Homo sapiens: one gene and its partners. The protein of the gene in region 3 interacts with the protein of the main gene of each other region in a pairwise test. Each region holds a gene or a part of one and is shown on either strand. Other genes may lie near its edges.

The links. The genes of interacting proteins can lie anywhere in the genome.
Region 1: the proteins of ZBED1 (region 3) and CCDC13 interact in binary tests that used the Homo sapiens proteins (3 or more experiments, as listed by UniProt).
Region 2: the proteins of ZBED1 (region 3) and PAX6 interact in binary tests that used the Homo sapiens proteins (3 or more experiments, as listed by UniProt).

Annotation. Positions count from the first base shown.
Region 1 is NC_000003.12:42,770,254-42,777,861, reverse strand, and holds the start of CCDC13 (coiled-coil domain-containing protein 13), read left to right. Parts: upstream 1-4,608; 5' UTR 4,609-4,686; intron 4,687-6,784; exon of another isoform or gene 6,785-7,250; intron 7,251-7,608. UniProt on the Homo sapiens protein: Required for primary cilia formation and promotes the localization of the ciliopathy protein BBS4 to both centriolar satellites and cilia.
Region 2 is NC_000011.10:31,788,526-31,794,322, forward strand, and holds the end of PAX6 (paired box protein Pax-6), read right to left. Parts: intron 5,590-5,797; coding exon 5,507-5,589; intron 5,278-5,506; coding exon 5,127-5,277; intron 5,029-5,126; coding exon 4,913-5,028; coding exon of another isoform or gene 4,739-4,912; exon of another isoform or gene 4,680-4,738; intron 2,336-4,679; coding exon 2,185-2,335; intron 1,800-2,184; exon of another isoform or gene 1,495-1,799; coding exon 1,409-1,494; coding exon of another isoform or gene 1,105-1,408; 3' UTR 501-1,104; downstream 1-500. UniProt on the Homo sapiens protein: Transcription factor with important functions in the development of the eye, nose, central nervous system and pancreas. Required for the differentiation of pancreatic islet alpha cells.
Region 3 is NC_000023.11:2,485,884-2,491,061, forward strand, and holds the end of ZBED1 (E3 SUMO-protein ligase ZBED1), read right to left. Parts: intron 4,890-5,178; 5' UTR 4,837-4,889; coding exon 2,752-4,836; 3' UTR 552-2,751; downstream 1-551.

The DNA.
Region 1 (7,608 bases), on a different chromosome or scaffold from region 3:
GTGTGGTGGTGCGAGCCTGTGGTCCCAACTACTTGGGATGCTAAGGTGGGAAGATAACCTGAGCCCAGGTGGTTGAGGCTGTAGTGAGCTGTCATTGCACGACTGCATTCCAGCCTGGGCGATAGAGCGAGACCCTGTCTCAAAAACAAACAAAAACCCCCAAACCTCTCTACTTGCCCCGTTCTTCCACTCCCTAGCATCCTCTATTCTACTTTCTGTCTCTATGAATTTGTTCATTCTAGGTACCTAATATACATGGAATCGTACAATATTTGCCATTTTGTGTCTGGCTTATTTCACTTAGCATAATGTTTTCAAGGTTCATCCAGAATTCAGAATTTCATTCTTTTCTAAGGCTGAATATTCTGTGGAGTATATATACCACCTTTTGTTTACTCATTCATCTGTTGAAGGTTGCTTGGGTTGTTTCTACCTTCTGGCTATCGTGAATAATGCTGCTATGAACACTGGCATACAATTACCTGTTTGAGTCCCTTCTTTATTTTTTATTATTACTTTTTTTGTAGAGACAAGGTCTCGCTATGGTGACCAGGCTGGTCTCGAGTTCCTGGCCTCAAGCAGTCCTCTACCTCAGCCTCCCAAAGGGCTGGGATTACAGGCATGAGACACTGTGTCTGGCCAAGTCCCTTCTTTCAAATCTTTCGGGCATATATTTAGAAGTGGAATTGTAAATCATACGGTAATTCAATGTTTAACTTTTTGAGGAACCACCAAACTGTTTTCTACAGTGGATATACCATTTTACATTCCCACTAGCTCTACATAAGGGTTCCAAATTCTTCACATCCTGGCAAACACTTGTTATTTTCCATTTTTTGGATAATATCCATCCTAATGGGTGTGAAATGGTATCTCGTGGTTTTGGTTTGCATTTCTCTAATGGTTAGTGATGTTGGGCATGTTTTCATGTGCTTATTTGCCATTTGTATATCTTCTTTGGATTAATGTCTATTGAAGTCCTTTGCCCATTTTTGAATTGGGTTTTGTTGTTGAGATAGCTAACCTGATTTTTGACAAAGGTGCAAAAGCAATTCAATGGAGGAAGCATAGCTTTCCAACAAATGGTGCTGGAACAACTGGACACCATAGGCAAAAAAGCAAAAAAGAACCTTGATCTAAATTTCATACCTTTATATAAAAATTACATCAAAATAAATCATGGGCATAAAACTCTAACACTTTTATAAAAATGGGGGGAAATCTTTGGGACCCAGGGCTAGGCAAAGAGTTCTTTCTTAGACTTGAAATCAAAAGCACAATCCATTAAAGAAGGAATTGATAAATTGGACCTTGTCAAAATCAAAGCCTTTTGTTCTGTGAAAGCCCAAGTGAAGAGGATTAAAAGATGAACTACAGATTCGGAGAAAGTATTTGCAAACTACGTATCCAACAACGGACTAGTATATAGAATATATAAAGAATTCTCAAAACTCGACAGTTAGAAATTGGGCAAAAGACATGAACAGACACTTCACCAAAGAAAATATACAGATGACAAATAAGCACATGAAAAAGATGTTCAATATCATTATCCGTCACGTACATTAGAACCACAATGATATCACTACACACCTATTAAAATGACTAAAATAAAAATAGTGACATCAAATGCTGGCAAGGATGTGAAGAAACTGTGTCACTTAAACATTTCTGGTAAGAATGTAAAGTGGAACAGTCACTCTGGAAAACAGGTTTGGCAATTTCTTCTAAAACTAGATATGCAGTTACCATACTACACAGCAATTGCACTCTTGGGCATTTATTCCATAGGAATGAAAACTTATGTTCACACAAAAACCTATACATGAATGTTTATAGCAGCTGAATCATAATTGCTCCTAACTGGAAACAACCCAGATGTCTTTCAGTGGGTAAATGGTTAAACAAACTGGTACATTCATACTAGAACTACTCAGCAATAAAAAGGAATGGATTATTGATACACACAACAACTTGGATGAATCTCCAAGGAATTGTTCTGAGTAAAAAAAAAAAAAAATCCATCCTAAAAAGTGTACATGCTGAGTTATTTCATTTATATAACATTTTTGAAATGACAAAATTTTAGAAATGGAGGGCAGACTGGTGGTTGTAAAGGGTTAGGGACTAGGGCAGGAGGAGGGAGGGAAGTGTACATAGTCATAAAATCACAACAGAGAGATCCTTGTGATAGTATTTGGTATCTTTTTTTTTTTTTGAGACAGAGTCTCACTCTTGTCGCCCAGGCTGGAGTGTAATGGCGCGATCTCAGCTCACTGCAACCTCCACTTCCTGAGTTCAAGCGATTCTCATGCCTCAGCCTCCCAAGTAGCTGGGATTACAGGCAAGCACCACTATGCCTGGCTAATTTTTGTTATTTTTAGTAGATATAGGATTTTGCCATGTTGACCAGGCTGGTCTTGAACTCCTGGCCTCAAGTGATCTGCCTGCCTCAGCATCCCAAAATGCTGGGATTATAGGCGTGCATGAGTCACCATGCCCGGCTAGTATTTGATATCTTGATGGTCATGGATACACAAACTGACACGTGATAAATCAAAAGAAAAGTACAGTTAAATTGGAGAAATCTAAGAGGAGTAGGTTGTATCGATGTCAATATCCTGGTTGTAATATTATACTAAAGTTCTGCAAAATATCATTGTGGAGAACTGGAAAAGTATACAGGGGATCTCTATTATTTTTTACAACTGCATGTGATTCTATAAAAATCTCAATATAATTTCAAATTAAAAAGCAAAAAACAAAGGGCAGTGTCCTACAGATACTTCTGGCTAGAGAAACAAAGTGGGCTGGAATTAACAAACATCTGTATACTGTACATGAGGAAATACTGGTGACCCAGATTGGATTCGCCAGCTTCTTGGATGATAAAATGTCAAGCTTATAAACTAAAGAAAATTCTCAAAAGAATTTTGGGCAGAAAAAAAAAATGGCATGAGAGCCTTAGTGGTGACCGTGGAAAAGTAACAAACCTAGAGGAAAATCATCCCTGCTTTTTAAAAAATGGGTTACTGCAAAAATGATATCCTCGTCAAAAATAATCCTTGGATTGCTGGAGCAAATGTTACCCCTTTCCCAAACTTTCTAATACATACATTCTAGAATGTCGGTTCTGAAATTCTCTTGCATCCTTAATTTTCTCACAGCATGTTCTTATTTTAATGAAAACCTGGCTTTCTGCTAGGATCCATGCTTTCCAGAAGCCCTCTAAGTAGACCTGGCTATTCCTTTTCCTATGCCACATAGTCCCATCGTGGTCATGAGGCAAACGAATGATACTCCCCACTACACACACCATTTAAAAAAAACCCTAATCCTTTGAGGCTCACATCTACCTGAATCCTACTCTTTATCCTGTCTCTCTTTGCTGCCACCTGTATATTATACGTCTCCCACCCTCAGCTCACCAGGCAGCAATTGGAGACCAACGGGAAAGATCCATTTTTCCTTTATCAGGAAACTTCGGGTTTATACCTGCAGTGCTGATGGCAGTCTAGTGCCGTATCTTATGTATGCATGTCTATGGGATGGGTATTCATTCACCTTATGAGGAAAAAAAATAGAAAAACAACTGCCAAGGTTTTCAAATTATGAAGTCCTGGATAAATATTTGGGCAGGAGCTGTGGCTCACGCCTGTAATCCCGGCACTTTAGGAGGCCAAGGTGGGCGGATCACCTGAGGTCAGGAGTTCAAGACCAGCCTGGTCAACATGGTGAAACCCCGTCTCCACTAAAAATAAAAAAATTAGCCAGGTGTGGTGGCGGGTGCCTGTAATCCCAGCTACTCAGGAGGCTGAGGCAGGAGAATCGCTTGAACCTGGGAAATGGAGGTTGCAATGAGCTGAGATCGCACCACTGCACTCCAGCCTGGGCGACACAGCGAGACTCTATCATAGATAGATAGATAGATTAGATAGATAGATAGATAGAAAGAAATCTCCCTTGAATCATCTTTCCTAGAAATTTGCCTCCCACCCCCATATTGCCCTGAAATATAGTAGTGTCTTACATTGGAAGGTGCCATTTAAAAAAAAAAAAACAAGTATTTTCCTTTATGAAAATAAACGATGTTCATTATTTTAAAAATTCTCTAAAGTGTAAAAATAAAAACACAGCACTGCTATTCCACCACCCAAATATAACCACTTTTAATATTTCTATTTCGGTCTTGTTTTAGTGCCTAGTTTGAAATAAACACAACTTTATTTATTTAGCATTGCTATATTGCGTCCTGCTTCCTTCACTCACCATCATAACATGGCCTTTCCCCACACTGTTTTACATTTTTCAAATATATCTGAATGGCTACTTTAAATTTCATGGTGAGATCGTTCGCTTTTTAACTCCCCAACAGGAGAGCGGAATGGGCATCTCTGTGCAGAACGTTTGGTCCACAAAACTTTTTTAAAAATATACTCCAGAAGATTTAAAATCTCCAGCGCACTCGAGATCGTGCTCGCTTGGATCCAGCCCAGCGCGCCATCAGCGCCTCTGTCACTTTCAGAACTCTTGGCGCCCCCTCGGCCCCCGTAGAGTAGCGTTGAAAACGCGCAAGTGACGTCGCTTGTTTCCCTGGTGACGGTTGCCAGGGCAGCGCGTGTCGGCGTCCGGAGGAGGTGACCTAGCCGCCGCGGTCCTAGAAGGGAGAAGTGGAGAGAGACCGCTGTAAGTGCCGGGGAGAGCGGAAGGGCCCGGGCCGGAGCTGGGAAAGCCCGCAGCTGCCGGGGGCGCGGAACCGAGCCCGAGCGCAACCCCAGCCCGAGCGCGCTGCCACTGGCCGGGCGCTCACCGCGTGCTGGGCGCCCAGCGAGGACTCTTCCCCTTCGTCCTTTGAATCTTCACACACAGCCCTCTTCTAACCCAGGCAGACGCTTATTTTCCATGCAGTACATGGGTTAATGAGGCGCAGAGGGTGGGTCGCCTGCCCCAAAGTCATAGCGTAGATGGCACAGTCAGAACTCGAACTCAGGTCCGCCTGACAAGCGCTGTTTGCTGGGCCTCTGCCACTGGGCCCTCTCGCACCGCACTGAAAGATGCGACCCGACGGCGTGCACTTCCGCATCTCCCAGTTCCCCTTCCAGGCCCAGCCCCCACAGGACTGGGGACTCGCAAGAGGGAGTTCCCCTCCAAGCCCGGAGTCCAGCCCTGAGAACCAGAGCATCACCCCGCTCCCATCCCAAACCCATCCCTACGAAGATGCTAGCAGTGCACAGAGCGCCAAACTAGGCATCCGTGGGCGGCCTCCCCACACCTCCAGGCCCCTAGACTGTTGTTGAGAATACTCGAAAAGAACACAGTAAAAGAAAAGAAGAAAGAGAAGGAGAGGGGAAGAGAAAAACAATGAAAAAAGTGGCAGGCCGATGGGGCAAGGGGTCTCAATCCTTCCTCACTGGTCCCTGTCACCTATGGTCCCATATCCTGTGGGATCTTGCTTCCTCATAGGACTCCAGAGTGCATGCCACTCTTCCTACTCCCTGGCTCTAAGTCCTACCTGAGCCAAGAGTTCTTTCCATGCAGCTCTAGCCTTTACTTTATTTTTTTTATTATTACTTTTTTTTTTTTTTTTTTTTTTTGACGGAGTCTCGCTCTATCGCCCAGGCTGGAGTGCAGTAGCGCGATCTTGGCTCATTGCAACCTCTGCCTCCCAGGTTCAAGCGATTCTCCTGCCTTGGGCTCGAGTAGCTGGGATTACAGGCGCCCGCCACCATGCCTGGCTAATTTTGGTATTTTTAGTAGAGATGGGGTTTCACCATGTTGGCCAGGCTGGTCTCAAACTCCTGACCTCAGGTGATCCACCCACCTCAGCCTCCCAAAGTTTTGGGATTACACGCATGAGCCACCACGCCCGGCTTAGCCTTTACTTTTAAAAGAAAATAGACTTAAAGCAGATTTTTAGAAGCATTAAACAAAAAACAGTTCCTTTATGTATTCCGTATTCCCATTTCCTCTGTTGTTAACATCTTACACATTGCATTGGTGTGGTACATTTGTTATCATTGATACAACTATACTGGTATGTTATTACTAACTAAAGTCCATAGTTTACATTAGAGTTCATCTGTTGTTGTTGTTGCTGCTGCTGTATTGAGACAGGGTCTCACTTTGTCACCCAGGCTGGAGTGCGGTGGCATGATCATGGCTCACAGTAGCCTCCAACCCCTGGGCTCAAGCAATCCTCCCACCTCAGCCTCCTGAGTAACTGGGAACACAGGCACATGCCACCATGCCCAGCTAATTTTTTTATTTTTTGTAAAGCTATGGTCTTGCTATGTTGCCCAAGCTGGTCTCAAACTCCTGGCCTCAAGTGGTCCTCCCACCTTGGCTTCGTAGAGTGTTGAGATTACAGGTGTGAGTCATCACACCTGGCCAGTGTTCATTGCTTAAGGTTGCACAGGTCTACAAGTTTTGCTAAATGTGTAATGCTGTGTATCCACCAGTAAAGTATACAGAACAGTTTCACCTCCCCAAAAACCCCCTAGGCTTTACTGTTCATTGTTCCTTCCCACCAACCCCTGGAAACCACTGATATTTTTCATTTAGAAGGGATTTACAATCACTGGTATCTTTTACTTCTCTGTAATTTTGCCTTTTTCAGAATATTATACAGTTTGCAATTATACAGCATGTAGCCTTTTCAGACCGGCTTCTTCACTTAACAATACACATTTAGGTTTCTTTCATGTCTTTTCGTGGCGTGATAGCTCATTTCTTTTCATCACTGAATAATATTCACCGGTATGAGTGTACCAGGTTATCTACTCACCTATTGAAGTACATCTTGTTTTTTTCTCATTTTTGGTAATTATGAATAAAGTTATTGAGTCCAGAATTGTGGGTTCTTGGTCTCACTGACTTCAAGAACAAAGCCGCAGACCCTCGCGGTGAGTGTTATTACAGTTCTTAAAGGTGGCGTGTCTGGAGTTTGTTTCTTCCTTCTGATGTCAAGATGTGTTCAGAGTTTCTTCCTTTTGGTGGGTTCATGGTCTCGCTGGCTCAGGAGTGAAGCTGCAGACCTTCGCGGTGAGTGTTACAGCTCTTAGGGTGGTGCGTCTGGAGTTGTTCATTCCTCCTGGTGGGTTCGTGGTCTTGCTGGCTTCAGGAGTGAAGCTGCAGACCTTCACGGTGAGTGTTACAGCTCATAAAAGCAGTGTGGACCCAAAGAGTGAGCAGTAGCAAGATTTAGTGCAAAGAGCAAAAGAACAAAGCTTCAACAGTGTGGAAGGGGACCTCAGCAGGTTGCCACTGCTGCCTGGGGCAGCCTGCTTTTATTCTCTTATCTGGCCCCACCCACATCCTGCTGATTGGTCCATTTTACAGAGAGCCCATTGGTCTGTTTTACAGAGAGCTGATTGGTCCGTTTTGACAGGGTGCTGATTGGTGCATTTACAATTGCTGAGCTAGACACAAAAGTTTTCCACTTCCCCACTAGATCAACTAGATACAGAATGTCAATTGGTGCATTTACAAACCTTGAGCTAGATACAGAGTGCCGATTGGTGTATTCACAATCCCTTAGCTAGACATAAAGATTCTCAAAGTCCCCACCAGATTAGCTAGATACAGAGTGCCGATTGGTGCATTCACAAA
Region 2 (5,797 bases), on a different chromosome or scaffold from region 3:
ACTTTTGAATATACTTCAGTGAAATCATTGTTGAAATAGGCTGACAATGGAAATCTGCCCAGATTGAAAATGCCAGTCCTAATTCAAAAAACAATTCCTAGCTAATCGCTTGTTGCATTTTTAAATTATTTCTAGACTTTGAGCTTTAGAATTAAATGGCTAACTGGGAAATGTTACCATTTTGTATATATGTTGTGGGTATAAATGGGCACAGATCTACACCCTGCTGTAAGTGGAATTTTTTTCTAACACGTTTTTGATTTATGGTATCTATAAGGATTATTTTTTAAGGATCATCAGGATGTAAAACAGAGTGTGTGTGAAAGTAACCATTGGTTTAGAATGTTGATCTAACATGGAAATAAAATTTGTAACACCACACTATAAGGTTAAAAAGAAAACTGTATAATAAAGGAAATACAAAGGCTTTGGCATGGTTTTTTACAATCAACAATGGTTAATTTTGATATGTAGTTGTGAACAACTTCAAAACACTTAAGTTTAAAACTCTTGCAAGCACTTTTAATTGATTAGGAATGAACTCTAGATGCACAAAATGATTGGACCGTGAACAGTAATACAACTATATCTAAGAACAATTAACTTTTGCTGGCCAAAAAAGAAACGTATGATTGCATGAAAATGTGTATAAAACATCTATATTCTTGTCAAATATAAATGAAATTAACTTTATTATAGAAATCATTCTGAGGATTTCTAGGGAAGACAAATACTTACATTTTGACATAAAACAAATTGGATTATATCGAAGACACACTCTACCTTTTAGCTATCAACTTTTTTTCTTCCTTGAATTTATATCTTACCCTTTTTTGCACATAAACTTCATCTGTTAACAACCTTTGGAAAACCAACAGATATTTCTGACATAAATCTAGTGCATGTTGTTCCAGGTTTAATTATATGCAAAGGAATGATACAAACTTGGAACATCAGTCCATAAACTATGAACAGATGGGTAGAAGTATTCGATATATCTTGATAAAACTCTTAAATTCGTGGCAAAGCTTGTTGATCATGGTTTTCTTTTTAAAAAAAAAAAAAACAACTTCATGACCAACACAGATCAAACATCCATCCAGTCTACATTGTTCTTTTTTTCATTATAACATACAAATGCCCATTTACAAATAATACACCAAAATGAATAAAAGTTTGGATACCAAAATGAAGATTTGTTCCAACTGATATCGTGCCTTCTGTATACAAAGGTCCTTGTTTCAAGTCCATTCCTTCCCCAGTGGTACAATACAGGACACAATTGTAGAACTGAAGCGGCTCTAACAGCCATTTTTCTTTCTTTCCTGAAAGCTCAACTGTTGTGTCCCCATAGTCACTGACTGAATTAACACAATATTTCCTTTCCTTTTTTTTTTTTTTTTTTTTTTTACTGTAATCTTGGCCAGTATTGAGACATATCAGGTTCACTTCCGGGAACTTGAACTGGAACTGACACACCAGGGGAAATGAGTCCTAGAAGTGGATGAAAGAAATAGCCATGTAGATATTCCCTTTGAGAAACAGACATGGAATACAAATTTATAGGTTTACAAAAAAAAAAAAAAAAAAAAAAACTAATACTTTCTAACATTTTTTACTGTATTAAAATCACTTCAATTGTTACAAATAAAAGTAGCACCTTCAGAAACTAGACAATATATGTATATATACCTATTGGATCCCAAGTACCCCCCACCCCAATCCAAAGGAAAAGAAAAAAAAAATCCTCTGTTTGTTTGCATGTTTGGAACTTTTACAATAAAGCTGTCTCTGGAAAACCAATGTGTCACTTTTTATTTCCAGCAAAAGGTCTAGAGGAGCTATGAGGGCAAGAAGCATTTCAACAAGCACGCACCTACAGCTCAGTGGGCCCCCTACTGAGCTTCGTCTAATAATCTGTCCTCAGAAAACTTGCAGTCTCAGGCCTTGTCTTCATACACAACTTTTGTGACCAAATTCAGGAAAAACAATTTTAGTTTTTGTCTATATGGTGTAAAGTTACTAATTAGCTTAACTGAATTTCCCTTTTCAATCCCCATCCCCCAGGGACAAGGAAAGCAAGGAGTTAAACACGCCCTCCCATAAGACCAGGAGATTCTGTTTGGGTAAACTTCTAGTGAAGAGAGATCGCCTCTGTGCAGCCTGCAGAAAGCAGTGGCTCACCTGTTGAAGTGGTGCCCGAGGTGCCCATTGGCTGACTGTTCATGTGTGTCTGCATATGTGGGGGGGTGTAGGTATCATAACTCCGCCCATTCACCGAAGGGCTGGTGGGCAGCATGCAGGAGTATGAGGAGGTCTGGCTGGGGACTGGGGGCTGTGAGGAGAGAGGCAAACCTGTGGTTACTGAGGAACACATCACACAGCCACAGCCCCAGGCTCCCTCCTCCCGAGGAACTCTGCCAACAAGTCTGATCATTAAAGATGCCTTCACGTGAAGTACTGGAATTCCATATGATAAATCTAAGATTGGGCCTCGAGCTAGTCCTTCCACTGGCCACAGCTAGAAGAAAGCTGCCTATGTATCAAGCCTCTAAAGCACTTTAGGTTCTGACAACTGTCCAGCTAGATGGTTGCCACTATCCATAAATTAATAGGATTTTTGTCTCTAACCTCTGCTAGCATCTTTGAAGAACCTATAGCATGAGGACCTTCATCAAAACACATCCCCTCTCCCTGCAAATCTGGATTTATTTGGGAACCCTATGACCCCCAGAGCCCATATCTCAAGCTTTGGGACAGAGAGCAGTGGGAGGAGCTCTCAGTAAAGTATGGTTCAGGGACCTTGGGAACCTTTCACTGATGGGATTAAAGATTCTTTGAAGAAGCAGATCTGTAATGACCCCAAGTTAAAGTGATCAGAAGTGTTAGTAAATATAACGACCTCCATCCTGAGAATTAACCATGACTTCCTAACAGACCCAAAAGCCCAGACTGACTTATAACTAGAAAACTGTTGCTACCCTCGAACTGTTCGGAATGGCAGCACTGAGGAGGTAAACCTTTCTCCTAACAAAACGCCTCATGAGCTCTCATGGTACTATGCCATGGCAGCAAACTTGGGATGAATTAAAAGAAGTGTGTCGGGAACAAGCAGGTCAGATGATAGTACAGTATACTATCATTTCTCTTCTCTGCAAACTGGAGAAATGTTTAATTTCCAAAATCCATATGCTCAGAGAGGGAAGCATATCAGAGAAGGTCCAGAGGAAGACACCCACCATTTGTAAAATGATGATTTTGGTCAAGAGAATGAATAAATGGATAGACAATCGGGCTCACCCACTCCAAAATTCAAAGAGTAGTTTTCTCTGAAGAGTAAAGTTATTGATCATTTTGATTTTCTTTATGCTTAATGAATGCATGTACTTTTTGAATTATACAAATTATGTAATTTTTAAAAGTCAGTGTTTGAAATAGATTGATTCCCCATACCGCTCTGTATGTGGAAACAGCCCTAATATAATTGCAGCATCTACTTGTTCGTCTTATTATTTTCTCACATACACATTTTGCTATCTTCACAGAAACCTGGATGTTGTTATAATACATGAAACTGAACGAGACACTCTGTGGCCTTATTAAAGTCAGATGATGAATGCTAACATCAAGTTCAAAGAGGCAAACAGGCCTTGAGGGCCTGCCAGAATTTCAGCTTGCATTTGTTTCTAATTCCTGCAATGAGTTCCTCTAGGCAACCTGACTTCTGGAAAATTCCAACGCAGTTATAGCAACACCAACTAATGGGCTGTTAATCCCTTAATTTACATCAATTGCACTATGGCCAACAATATCCAGATGCAATAAAAATAAACATGTGAATAATTCCTCTGAAGTTGCTTATCTAGCTGCTCCTATATTAGTCTGAAGACTGTGAAACATTTATTTTGCTGTTATTTGGATTTGAAATCCAGCAAAAAATGTTCAATGGAGAATAAACAATCAGTGTAGCCCCAGAACTGTTTCCAGCAGAGGCTCATGCTGGCCAATATCGTACCATCTAATATCTCTAATTGTTGCACAAACAGGAGTTCTAGGAAAACCACTGGGAAAGGCCTACCAGAAGACAGACATTTTTCCTATCAAGAATCCATCCAGCAACAAAGGTCTAGTACAAACCATCTGCCTTATCCAACTTACATCATAAAGGGTGAACCTAGTGCAGGACCTCTAAATGTAGGGGCTAATAGATATTTGGGACAGAACTAAGAGGAGAGGCAGGCTGTCATACCAAGTGAATAGCATCAAGCTTCCCAGGCAGCTAGGAGGGCCACAAACTCGTCACACCATTCACAGCAAAGACACACTAAATTTCCAGCAAATACCTGCTATGCCTTTTCTTATTGTAGATACAGACAGAAAACTAGCATTCTCATTATATTATGTATATCTCACCATGTAAATATGAATCCCATTTCTGATCCTTTTTTCTTTCTCACTAGTTTATCACATATACCCAAAGTAATGCCCCAAATGCGTGCACAGATTCTATATTTAGCATACAAACACATTAATATAAACCCAAATTTTAAACTACTAATCTGCTATCTGATAATGTGCCAGCATTATTTCCACTTTCTGGTGCAAGGCTCCCTGGTACCCAAAACATGCCCCACCACCACCCAACATTATCAAGGTAACAGTATAATAAAAGGCAGATCAACCTGACAAAACTGGACAGATTTTTATTACTCATTTTTTTAGGGCATGAATTAATGAGTCAATCACTTAAAAGTGATGGGATTGACTGTCTCCGACTTGACTGGTCAAGCCAATCACTGTAGTGCGAAAAGCTCTCAAGGGTGCAGACACAGCCAATGAGGTCCGCAGGCCCTGAGCCACTCCTCACTTCTCTGGGGCCTGGGTTATGCAGGCCACCACCAGCCGCACTTACTTGCATAGGCAGGTTATTTGCCATGGTGAAGCTGGGCATAGGCGGCAGAGCGCTGTAGGTGTTTGTGAGGGCTGTGTCTGTTCGGCCCAACATGGAGCCAGATGTGAAGGAGGAAACTGAGGGCAAGAGAAATGACAGTAGTCAGAGTGAGAGTCAGAGCCCGGAGCAAACAGGTTTAAAGACATTGATTCGTAGTATTAGTATTTCAAATTACCCGGTGTGGTGGGTTGTGGAATTGGTTGGTAGACACTGGTGCTGAAACTACTGCTGATAGGAATATGACTAGGTGTGTTGCTGGCCTGTCTTCTCTGATTCCTCAGTTTTTCTTCTCTTCTCCATTTGGCCCTTCGATTAGAAAACCATACCTGGAAATCAGGTGGGACAGGTTAGCACTGTGTCTACGTCGAGCCCAGCCCCACCTTGGCACCTCCACTGCTGCCCTCCCCACGCCCATGGCAGCAGAGCATTTAGCAGACTGAACCTTTTTATTATATTAGTCCTATAAATAAATAGTACTCTGTACAAGCACCTCTGTCTCTAGGAAAGACAAATGGTATGAATCACAAAGTGTGAAACTGCACAGTCTCTCGGTACCTGTATTCTTGCTTCAGGTAGATCTATTTTGGCTGCTAGTCTTTCTCGGGCAAACACATCTGGATAATGGGTTCTCTCAAACTCTGAAAGAGTAAGTTGATTTTCCATATTGTGCCAGAACTACACAAAATATGTTGACCAAACTGTGCATCAAACTGGTTCCCACCTCCCCACTCCCATTACCTCCAACCAATTCCCTTTAAAATGCTTCTAGTGTTGACTGTACTTGGAAGAACTTTCCCACCAGAACCAAGTTAAATTTTCTTTGGAATGGCATTCAGTGACCTTTCT
Region 3 (5,178 bases):
AGAAGAAGAGACAAGGATGGGAGGGAAGGAAGGAAGGAAAGAAGGAAGAAAGGAAGGATTTGTTGGCTGAAGAAGAGAGGGAGGGTTGGACGGAAGGAGGAGGGAAGGAAGAGACCATGTGAGAGGAGGTGAGGAAGACAGGAAGAGAGGGGTGATAAGGAGGCTGGGGGGAGAGGGAAGGCGCTGATGCCATCCGGATCCATCCAGGCTGCCTCGTCCATGGGGCCTCCGTTTATACAACTATCCACTAAGTGAAGGAACCGGCAAAAATCTCTGCTCCCGGGGAACACTTTCACCAGCTGCCGGCTTTATTCACTCAGAAATTTTGATGCCAAAACACCCGAAAGTACATCATAACTTGAGGATTTACAGACAAGAAAGAGGAGCACAGAACTGACCGTGGGTGCCCTGGAAAAAGTTGCTTTCAACAAGGACCACAACAAAAATAAAAATAATAATAATGATAAACCTCCCTCCACTCCCAGGATCAAGGGGTTCAGACAAACTGCAGTCCAGACGGACACGCGGCAGACAAATGAATGAGGAGCTAATGCATTGCTCTGGTTTATTGAACAACAGTCCAACTTTACAGCATTAAATAAGGGGCAACCGTTCAGGAGGGGAACGATGGCTTAAAAATAAAAATGAAGACAGAGCCGGGACAGTTCACATTTCCACGTGAGTGAGGAAAAGCGAAGGATTGTTAGAGACGTGAAGAGAACGCTGGCAATGCTACAGAATGGAGCCCACGGAGGCGTGGGCTGCCCTGCGTCCCCGGCCTCGGGGCAGAACAGGGAGCAACCCCAAAGCCTGCCCCACTGTGTCCCTTCCAGCTGCCCTTCTGCCGAGAACACCCGGAGCTGAGGGTTCCAAGTTCACGGCGGAACCGCTTCCCTTAAAAAGAAAGCAAAGGTTACGTGGATTTCTCCCGTGCTTCCTTTTCCACAGACTTAAACCGGCTCAGGACGTAAGGATAACATTCTGTGCTGCTTGCAGCCCTGAGAAGTCAGCAGCCGTGAAAGGCAGGTAGTTCCTTTGCCCTCTGACACCCCGAGTTCTTGGGGTCTCGGCAGAACACTGCCTGGAGCTGAGTGGGGTCATCCCTCCTAGACACCGTTCTCCCCAGCCCAGCTTGTCTTCACGGAGGCAGAGAACCCGCTGCACGTAGAATCCAAGCAATATGCTAAGCCTCCTGAAGTATTTTTCCTCCAGTTAAAAAGCAGTTCTACATGTTGGAAAACGTCTTTCTGTTTCCCTGAATGACTGAAAGCAACTCGCAGGAATCCAGCCACGGAAAACCCCTCCGGGGGCAATATTTTAAAATTCATTTCCCCTATGGTATTCAGTTTAAAAGAGAAGAATCAAGAGTCCTTTCCGGTAATCAAATCAAAAACACCTTATGTGGAAAAGCTGGCCGCACGGGGGAACTGGACTTTTAGGGCTGAGACACCGAAGACATAACCTCCGGACCCGTGAGCCACCCACTTTTGTTTTGTTTTGAGACGGAGTCTCACTCTGGCCTCCAGGCTGGAGTGCAGTGGCGTAGTCTTGGCTCACTGCAACCTCCACCTCCTGGGCTCAAGCGAATCTTCCGCCTCAGCCTCCCGAGTAGCTGGGATTACAGGCGGGTGCCACCGCATCTGGCTAGTTTCTTGTATTTTTAGTAGACACGAGGTTTCACCATGTTGGTTGGCCAGGCTGGTCTCGAACTCCTGACCTCAGCGTGAGCCACCACGCCCGGCCACCGCCCAGTTTTAAGGACCAACTCCGCAAAGTGAAATTTCGGCAGGCAGCAGGAAGCAGGCTCTCTGGCAGCAACCTGTCGAAAATACAACACATTCCACACTTTTTTTTCTGTTTGCTTTTTGTTAAGTGTCTGCATTTTTGTACTCATCTGTCACATTTTTAACCGAACATTAAAAAAAAAGGTCTCTCTTTTTAAGAAGGGCATTTTGGCTAAAAGGTCTCTTCCCCATTTCTCAGAAGCAAGAGGTCCCTGCTTGCACGAGAATGTAAACATGAATTCAGTGATCTGGACCTCGCAGAAGTCACACATGATGATCGGGAAAGGCTCCTTCGACGCCACCCAGAATGTTCCTGCGTTTCTTCTAAACCCTCCCAGGGAGAACTCGAATCAGACATGGTGGAGGTCTTAAGTATCTGTGAAGGAAGGAACAGCTCCTCTAGGCTCTGCTGCACGCAATTCCCAAGCAGAAGCGTTGGCAGTTCCCAAGCAGAAGTCGTCCGGGCCCCGGGAATAGGGGAGGAAAGGAAACCCACTCAAAGCCACCTCTCTTGTGTCTTCTTTTTTCTTTTTGAGAGAGTCTCGCTCTTGTCGCCCAGGCTGGAGTGCAGCGATCTCAGCTTACTGCAACCTCCACCTCCCAGGTTCAAGCGATTCTCTGGCCTCAGCCTCCAGAAGCTGGGATTACAGGCACATGCCATCAGTCCTGGCTAATTTTTGTATTTTTAGTAGAGACGGGGTTTCGCCATGTTGGCCAGGCTGGTCTCGATCTCCTGACCTCAGCTGATCTGCCCACCTCGGCCTCCCAAAGTGCTGCGATTATAGACAGGAGCCACCGCCCCCGACCCTCTCTCACTTCTCAAATCTCTTTCCTTTTTCCACCTTCTAGGTGTCAAAGACAGTGGATGGTCTCTGAGGTTCAAAACCAAGCTGACCGGGTAAGTATTTACAGCAAAGCATCCAATGGGCTGCTGCGGGGATGACTTGTAAGACAACACGCTTCCTCGCTACAGGAAGCTGCTGTCCCTAATGCCAAAGAAACCGCCGCTGACGCCATCCCCCAAGGAGAACACCTGCTCCTGGTCCAGGCCCCACTCCCCCTCGTCCTGGTCCTCGGGTTCCGCCTCTGCCCCACTCCGGGCGTTCTCATACAGAAACACCTGCTCGTCCACGTGCGCGGGAGCCAGCCGGTTCCTCTTGGCGCTGACCACGTTGGCGGCGGATCCGAAGAGACGCTCAGGGGCGACGCGCGTGGCCGTCACGCACCAGTACTTCTGCAGCACCTTGGGCAGCAGGGGGAAGAGGGCCAGGCGGTCTGACCACCACTTGAGGGGGTCTTCGTTGAGGCCAAGCACCTTCTGGGACTTGAAGTTGCTCAGCTCCTCCACCACCTGGGCATGCCACTCTTCCTGGTCCTCCACGCCGCCTGTCTGGCAGAAGATCTCGGCCAGCATGTTGTTGATGACGCTGGCGGGCGGCGGCGTGGATGTCCGCATGAGCTTCTTGACGGGAGGCTCCTCGGGCACCGGGAAGATCTTGTCCTCAGCCGGCCGGTAGCCGCCGTCTTTGACCTTGTCCAGCAGGCCCTTGGCCTCTTCCACCACGCGATTCTCCACCTGCTGCCGCTCGAAGGCGGAGAGGAAGGGCAGCCTCTTGTAGCGGGGGTCCAGGAAGGTGGCCACGTTGAGAAACATGTCGATCTCGGGCGTCTCCTGGTAGGTCTTGGAAAGCTCCTTGGCGATGACCTCCTTGGCCATGCTGAGCTCCTTGGAGTCGGTCTCCTTGATGTTGAGCGTGGTGTTCAGGAGCATGTGCAGCAGCGGCTTCACCATGCTGATGGTGGGGTACCTGGAGGCCGACAGCATCTCGGCCACCTGCTTGAAGGGCTGCAGGAGCTCCACCAGCCCCTCGATGGTGGCCCACTCGCTGGCCTCCAGCATGAGGTGGTGGTTGTTGCTGTCCTCCACCAAGACCCCGGCGATGACGAACTGCTGCTCCTTGAGGCGCTGCAGCATGGCCAGCGTGCTCCCCCACCAGGAGACGCGGTTGCTCACCAGCATGCAGTGGGCCACGTTCTGCTGCTTCTGCTTCTCATAGAGCATGTACATGGCCACGGCAGACTGCTGGAAGTACTCCACCAGTTTGCGGCAGCGCGACAGCAGCGCCCCCAGCTTCGGGAGCTGGAAGGCCTGCTGGATGCCGGCATTGAAGGTGTGGCCCAGGCAGGGCATGTGCACTGCGACGTCCAGCAGGGAGCACGCCTTCACGATGTCCTTGCCATAGTTGGTGGTGGCCCCGAAGACCTTGGCGCTGATGCCCCACTCGATGAAGACCTCATAGAGCACTCGCGTGATGGTCTCCGCCGTGTTCTCTTCGGGCACCTCGAAGGTCTTCAGGCAGCGGGAGCCCATGGACAGGCAGTTGGGGGCGCCCAGGCCCAGGAAGTGGGCGGCCAGCGTGACGTAGGCGCGGTTCTGATTCTCACTCCTCCACATGTCGGTGGAGATGCCACACCAGGTGGCCTCGGCCAGCTCCTTCAGGATCACCTCCCGGACGGCCCCGTACTTCTCAGGGATGGCCTTGGTAGAGATGTACTTCCGGCTGGGCAGCTCATACCGGGGGTCGGCCGTCTTCAGCAGCACCTTGAAGGTGGGCTCGTCCACGATGGAGGCTGGGTACAGCCCCTCGCAGATGAGGCCCAGCACGGCGGCCGTCAGCTCCTGCTGCTTCTTGCTGTCGTAGCCGTGGCCGGCCTTGACGGCCAGCGCGTCCTGCCCGGGCTGCTGGGACGACTCGGGCTTCAGCTTGGAGAAGGCGGTGGCGAAGGCTTCACGCATCTGCTCCGTGTTGCTCTTGACGAACTCGCAGAATTCCTCGGGGTGGTTCTTCTCCAGGTGGTAGGACAGGTTGGAGGTGTTTCCGGAGTAGGCGATCTGGGCCATGCAGATGCGGCAGTAGATTTTCTTCCACTGCAGGATGCATCCCTCGGCGTTGGTGTCGAAGCCGAAATACTTCCACACCTTGCTCTTGGCGCGGGGGTGGGCCACCAGCTTCAGGTCTGTCTGGGAGCTCTCCAGGCTTTTATTCTCCATTGCTTCTCCACCGGAGCCTGCCTGCTGGACGGCTGCTCATGCGTGGGGACCTGCTGAGAAGGGCCAAGACAAACACAGCATGAGAAGGGACCCAGGCACGCACGGGAGCCCTGCCGGGGAGACAGACAGGGTGCCGGGGCAGCTCCGCTTTCAACCAAAGGGCACTGGGGCCGGACGGCTGGACCTTCCTTGCGGGTCACTTTTGCAGAGTGGAGGAGGGAACCTAGCGCAGGAATACGCTCTTTCTTCCACGTTAATCCGACTGCAGCGATGCCGCACGTGTCAACATACAGGTTTGCGAGTGAGCACGGCATTTTTGCAGGGCTGTACCTGACAAGTGCC